2 linked regions of the Homo sapiens genome follow. The protein of the gene in region 2 interacts with the protein of the main gene of each other region in a pairwise test. Each region holds a gene or a part of one and is shown on either strand. Other genes may lie near its edges.

Region 1 (3,755 bases), on a different chromosome or scaffold from region 2:
TTTTTTTTTTTTTTTAACAGTCACTGTTCTTTTCATCCTGTCAATTAGTAGGCCACTTCCAGGTTAGGCATTCAGTAAATCTTTCAGCTTATATGGAGAGACAGCCTCCATATGTACAAAACTACTTGAGTATTGCTAAGGTAACATTTTAGAGCCCTGTCTTTGTACCTTAATAGCCTACAAGCCCCTTCTGACCCTAGAAATAGAAAAGACTAGTGTGCGTTTTGCCTTTCCTTAGAAGAAATTGGCAATGATGCCTTTACAGAGCAATCAAGATCAGATACTATGAGAGTTAAGTATGTTTTTCTGGCTTTCTGATTTTGTTTTGTTCTTATTTTTTATGTGTTTGTTTGGAACTTTCGTATTGAGGTATAGCATACAAACAGTACATACAGTCAAGTATGTGGTGTTACTACTCAGATTGAGATATTAGATCTTAGCTCTCTAATGCTTCAGTATACCCTATCAGAGATGACCATTTTTTTTTACTATATAATTTTTAACCTATTCAATGTAATATTTTATTAGGTAAAAAGCTGCTTTTTTCAAGACTTTAGGAGTCTTGAATCCCCATGAAATGCATTTTTAAAAAGCATGGGCTGGGCATGGTAGCTCACACCTGTAATCCCAGCACTTTGGGAGGCTGAGGCAGGCAGATCACTTGAGGCCAGGAGTTCGAGACCAGCCTAGCCAACATGGCGAAACCCCGTCTCTAGTAAAAATACAAAAATTAGCGGGTGTGGTGGCATGTGCCAGTAGTCTCAGATTTGGGGGTGGCTGAGGCACGAGAATAACTTGAACCCAGGAGACAGAGGTTGCAGTGAGCCAAGATTGTACTGCTACACTCCAGCCTGGGTGACACAGCAAGACTCTATCTCAATTAAAAAAAAAAAAAAAAAAAAGTATGTTATAGTACAGGGATGGTGTATTTATCCAGGATGATTTTACTCCTTATGTTTCTAAATGTTATTGCTTATCTTATGCTCATGTAAGGTAATTAAAAAACTAATTAACATTTCAATTTTAAAAAGGTATATAGCTGTCCCTTTAATGTGGTCACATGATAATTATTACTTAAGTTAGGTTTTATCCGCTTTTAAGTAAGTATGTGTAGAACTGAAGTCCAAATATACTGCTTGTGCTTTTTTATTCTGGGAAAAAAAACTATCAAATTACTGTATGTTTTTTCTTTTTGTTTTAAGAAGTCAGCACTCTAAATAATTGTATTAATCAAGTGTTGTGATTGTTTCTAAAGGTGTTACTAATGGATTGAGAGGCCAGTCTGTTTTAGTTGTGATTTTGTTATTACCTGGTTGTTTCACCTTGAGCAGAACCGTTAACTTCAGTGTATCTTAGTTTCCTCATTTAGAAAATTTAAGAAGTTGGATGACGTATTCTCCAGCTGTTCCAATGACAGGAATCATGATTCTGAATACATAGTAATTCTCCTCCTTTGACAAAGAGAAGGCAAGGAAAAGCTAAGACATGAGATTCCATTATCAGTAATGTTATTCCTGTAAGTGTGTGCACATATGCACACACATATGTATGTTTGCCTGTGTATTTCTTGTGACTTGATTTAACATGTGGTCTGTTCTACCTCTCAACAGTGGAAAAATGACTATCTCTAATGGATTAACAGATTTTTTTCCCTCTTTCGTGTGTATTTTGAGGCTCTTAGTCGGGACATTGTCATAGTTACTTAAGTTTTCAACTTTAACTTGTGCCAAAACTCATCTTAAGAAATTTTTAAAATTAAATAGTGATTATTAGGGTAAATATATGCAGTACATATATAGTATACAATATATGCAATACATATATAGTATAGGTGACTAAGATGTATAAGAAAAATTTGGAAATTAAGAACCATGTTTAAAAAGGATACAGACCGGGCGTGGTGGCCCACACCTGTAATTTCAGCACTTTGGGAGGCTGAGGGGGTGGATCACTTGAGGTCAAGAGCTCGAGATTAGCCTGGCCAACATGCTGAAACCCTGTCTGTACTAAAAATACAAAAATTAACCTGGTGTGGTGGCAGGCACCTGTGGTCCCAGCTACTCAGGAGGCTGAGACAGGAGAATTGCTTGAACCCGGGAAGCGGAAGTTGCGGTGAGCTGAGATTGCACCATGGCACTCCAGCCTGGGCAACAGAGCGAGACTGTGTCTCAAAAAAAAAAAAAAAAAAAAAGGCTACCAAAATAATGCCAGTTTTACCTTTTTTTTTTTTGAAATGGAGTCTCACTGTGTTGCCCAGGCTGGAGTGCAGTCATGTGATCTCAGCTCACCGCAACCTCCGCCTCCCAGGGTTCAAGTGATTGTCGTGCCTCAGCCTCCTGAGTAGCTGGAACTACAGGCATGTGCCACCGCACCTGGCTAATTTTTGTATTATTAGTAGACGCGGGATTTCACCATATTGGCCAGGCTGGTCTCGAACTCCTGACCTCGTGATCTGCCCGCCTCAGCCTCCCAAAGCGCTGGGACTACAGACGTGAGCCACCGCGCCCAGCATAGTTTTATCATTTTTAGAATCTTTATTCCTATCATTGCTATGGCTGTAGTTTTCAATTCCTATATCATCTCTTTCATAAAGACATATATCTTGTTATTTAATCATAGGGAGGCAGTATGAGTGTGATATTTAAGGACTGAGACACTACAACCAGACTCTTTGGGTTCAAATTCCAGTTCTATAACTTATCAGTTCTGTATCTTTGGCAGCTTACTTAACCCCGCTGTGCCTTAGTTTTCTTATCTGAAGTAGAGACAAAATAGTACTTGCTTCAAGTCCTTCCCAGGGTTGTTGTGAGCATTGAATGAGTATTACATGTTAATCACTAAGAAGAATGCTTTTTATGAAATATAAAGTAAGCTATTACAGTATATTGAAATGCTATTGTGAAATCAGATTTCTGTTTTTAGAGAAGTTCTGAAATAATGTTTCTTTTCACTAATTGTCCTAGTTTCCTAATGGAAGTTGGCTTTCTAGAAAGTAACAAATAATTGATACAAGATTATGATGGTGTTAATGAGTTTTTAAAACAGTATTCTAACCAGAATATGAACACTGTTCTAATTTAAGTGACATAATATTGTTCAAAAATGTCTTCGTGTAGATTGTTTTAACAGCTCTTTTGAGCTCTAATTGAAATGCAATAAACTGTATATAATTAAAGTATACAATTTGATTAGTTTTGATGAATATATATACACTCACCTATGAAACCACCACAACTGAAGCCGTAAGTATATCCATTACCTCCAAAAGTTTCGTCATGTCTGTCAGTGATCCTTCCTTCCCACTTCTCCCTGCCTCATTACAAGGCACTGCTGATATTTTCTGTCACTCTATATTTGTTTATAATTTCTCGAGCAACCTTGTCCAGTCTGCTGCCTGTGGGCCTCATATAGCCCAGGATGGCTTTGACTGCAGCCCAATGCAAATTAGTAAACTTTCTTAAAACATTATGAGATTTTTTTGCAATTTTTTTAGGCTTATCAGCTCTGGTTAGTGTTAGTGTATTTTATGTGTGGCCCAAGATAATTCTTTTTCCAGTGTGGCCCAGGGAAGCCAAAAGATTGGACACCCCTGTTCTAGAGCTTAAAAAATACTATATATGGAATCATACAGTGTATATTTTTTTGGTGGTCTGACTCTTTTCATTCAGTATAATTATTCTGAGATATAGTCATGCTATTACTTGTAACAATAGTTCATTCCTTTTTATTGCTGAGTAGTAAGTAGTCTGTTGTAT
Region 2 (3,755 bases):
TTATAATGGAATGATTTCTATTCCTTTGGATCTAGAGCCAGTAATGTGATTATGGGGTAGAATGGCAGTTCTGTTTTTACCTCTTTCAGGAATCGTCACACTGCTTTCCACAATGGTTGAACTAATTTACACTCCCATCAAGACACTGTAAGTGTTGCCTCTTCACTGCAACCTCACCAGCATCTGTTATTTTTTGACTTTTTAATAATAGTGATTTTGACTGGTGTGAGATGGTATCTATCTCATTGTGGTTTTGATTTGCATTTCTCTAATGATCACTGGTTAGTGATGGAAAGTTTGATTTGCATTTCTCTAATGATCACTAGTTAGTGACCATTAGACCCGCTCAGGGAGGGACGGGCCCACAAACGCTCCGAGGACAACGGCTCTGCAGCAGGGCCAAAGGTGCACTCACTCCGGGAGCAGTGGCACACAGGATGTATGGGCACACTCACAGTGGCAGGGAAGGGAAGGCAATGTCCTCTGGCACACACACTCACTGGCAAAGGGATGCTGGTATTAGTGTTTTTATAATTAGCATAAATAATAGGAGAGAGACATAAATAGGGGGTGGCTATGGGTGAGTGAGTGCAGGCAAAGTGGCCCGAGAGGCTGCAGTGCAGGGAGGGTGCTGGTGGGCTGGCCTGTGTCTGCACAGGCTACTCTGCTGGATCAGTCTGCTGGTCAGCCGGGGGTCCACCAGCACAGGAGCTATGATGTGGCCCCCAGGAGGTACCTGGCTGGGGGCCAAGCTGGGACCCAGGAGAGGCCAGCAAACTGAGTGGTGCTGAAGTTAGAATAGCCTCATGTAGTGGGTGAGACTGCCGTGCAGAATTCAGGTCCCATAGTTCCCATAGGGCTAAAGCTTCCTACGGGAGCAGGTCAAGCCTGGGGGGATGGGCATCCCTGGCCATGCTCCACTACAGACACTTTCACACTAAACCCTCTGGATTCCACACAGGCTGGAGTTCTGCCCCTACCACTTGTCTAAGCATCTCTCCCTGCCAGTTCAAGTGTTACTTGTGGTCCAGGGGTTTTCTCCTGCTGGGATTCGGAGGCTCATGGAAAGAGAGGGTTGCTCCTTGCCCATTCAACTCATGCTTTTGCAGGAGTCACTGGGGGCCAGGAATGCTTCCTGTGTGTGGTACCCCCATGCAGAATTCCTTTCCTTCTGAAGATTTGCTAGGAGTGCACCAATCTTCCTGATGTCCTGGTCCCTCGTGGGCGATGTTCCTCTTGACTGCGTCTAGTGGGACGTCTTGGAGTGGTATATTACATTTTCAATCAGCTGGATACATTTCCCTGGTGCCTTATAGACAACACAGAATGAAATAAATGTATAGATAGATTTTCTCAGCAGAATTAACATGTTTTAATATCCACAAAAAAAGTTAACCTAGGAACAGAGGGTTCCACATCTGAAAAAGAATCTCACCGTTCAATATGTCGAAGACATCAAGCATATCATGTTCGTGTGATTAAACACATGATATATTTTTTAAAGGTCTAGTTAATTTGGATCTGGATAAATTATTGGAATAGAAGTAAGGCAGACAAATCCACACTAAGTATTAGGGGCCTCAAATACACAGTTGGAAAATTTTTAACTTTTTCCTGAAAGTAATACTAGACAACTAAATGGTATTTAATTAACTCCCCTCATGAGGAGATGAAGAGGAGGATAAGTTTACTTAAAGTAGTTTTGAAAAATGAATCAGAATGATTGACAAACAGAAGCAGCCTTCTAGAAATTAAACTGATACTCAAGAGAAGACACATCCCAGGTTGAGTCTGACTATTCCTATATAAGAGCTGTTGCTGTTTGAAACAAGCAAGCGTATTGCAAAATTACAGTTCCCGAGAAAAGGAAGAGCTTAAAAAGTCTGTACAGACAGCTTCATGCAAATCCCTAAAGGTAAGCCATAATTGGGTTGACAGACTATTTTATTTAAGAATAGTTACAAGTTTGTGGATAGAAATGCAACTAATAAAACAGAAAAGCATGAAATTTTGAGACCTTTATCTGAAAATTAATTATTTAACATTTAAATCATGTATCTCTTCACTACAAAGTTAAATAAAATTAGATGTCCAATAATGGTAAAATTGCATTAGTGATGAAAAGTCATTTAAGGCAATTTTGAAAACTAGTACTAATAGAAATGTATAAATATGAGATAGTATTTGTCTGATCACTTTCATTTATCAACGTATTAAGTCAAATGCATTGGCTGACCGGGCTAAAATAGGTATAGGTGCAGCAGATTTGAAGACACAGAAAAAAAGAATTTGTTTAGAAAGTTGGAGAACAAACGTTAAGCAAGTGTAATGGGAATTGACAAGCAGTGATTTCCTCATATTGGATGACATTGACATGAAGTGAAGCAAGACAGTGTGTTTTTGTTTTGTTTTGTTTAATTTTTTGGTCCCATTTATATGCTCTGGCCACTTAGATGGCCAGAGTAAATGTTAGCTGGGTTTAATCAAAGAATTTTACTTTAATAAGGCAACAGGATGAAGGGAAAATAGAGAGAAGGAATTGTATTTGGTTGAAAGGAACTGTATTTGGTTATATGACAATGGAGAAATTCACTTAGATAAAAAAAAGAAATGTAAAAAAAATTGTGATGAATTTCTACATCTTGATTAAGTTATAATTTAATTACTATTTAGCATTCACTGTATTCAGGGCAATAACAGGGGAAGTCAATAAACTGCCTACTGGTATTAGTGTTTTTATATTTAGCATAAATAATAGGAGAGAGACATGAAGTAGAGCAACAATAATGCATGTATTTAGTCTCTCAGTAACCAAGAAATTGTTTAAGATAATTGATTCTCACTGGTGCATAAAAGGAAAAGTTTAAAATTCATTTTGAGTATGAATTAATCGTAATATTCAAGGGCAACATTTTGAATTAAAAAAACTGGAATATGACTACCAATACAAAGAAAAATGATATTCTCAGATGAAATAGTAAAAGCCTACACTATAACTCTACTCTTAAGTGTGAAATAATAAGATGTTATTCCTCCATAATATTTTCTAAACAACAATGCATGCTTCTCAATGCCTCTGGTTGCATTATATCCCAGTATAATAAAATATATTGAGGTTTCATTTCTTAAATTGATTTTAATGCTAAATCAGTTTATTATCTAGAAACAGAGCAAGTACTGGTGAAAATGACTTAAGAGCTTAAGTAAGTATATTCCTGTATCTCATTTAGTTAACCCAAGAGGAAAATATTGTTCAAAATATGGATGAATTAACTGTCTTGAATTTGCTATATCTGCAGATGGAGAGCAAACTAAAAGAGAAAAATCAAATGTGACTACAATAATGGAATTTGTTCTTTTGGGGTTTTCTGATATTCCCAATCTCCACTGGATGCTTTTTAGTATATTTTTACTTATGTATTTGATGATCCTGATGTGCAATGGCATCATAATACTACTAATAAAAATTCACCCCGCTCTCCAGACTCCCATGTATTTTTTTCTTAGCAATTTTTCCCTTTTGGAAATCTGTTATGTAACAATCATTATCCCAAGAATGCTCATGGACATTTGGACTCAGAAAGGAAATATTTCTTTGTTTGCTTGTGCTACACAAATGTGTTTTTTTCTTATGCTTGGAGGCACGGAGTGTCTCCTTCTGACAGTGATGGCCTATGACCGCTACGTGGCTATTTGTAAGCCTTTGCAGTATCCTCTAGTGATGAACCACAAAGTCTGCATTCAGCTGATAATAG

The links. The genes of interacting proteins can lie anywhere in the genome.
Region 1: the proteins of OR10AG1 (region 2) and EBAG9 interact in binary tests that used the Homo sapiens proteins (3 or more experiments, as listed by UniProt).

Annotation. Positions count from the first base shown.
Region 1 is NC_000008.11:109,543,152-109,546,906, forward strand, and holds part of EBAG9 (receptor-binding cancer antigen expressed on SiSo cells), read left to right. Parts: intron 1-3,755. UniProt on the Homo sapiens protein: May participate in suppression of cell proliferation and induces apoptotic cell death through activation of interleukin-1-beta converting enzyme (ICE)-like proteases.
Region 2 is NC_000011.10:55,968,052-55,971,806, reverse strand, and holds the start of OR10AG1 (olfactory receptor 10AG1), read left to right. Parts: upstream 1-1,861; 5' UTR 1,862-1,899; coding exon 1,900-1,915; intron 1,916-3,299; coding exon 3,300-3,755. UniProt on the Homo sapiens protein: Odorant receptor.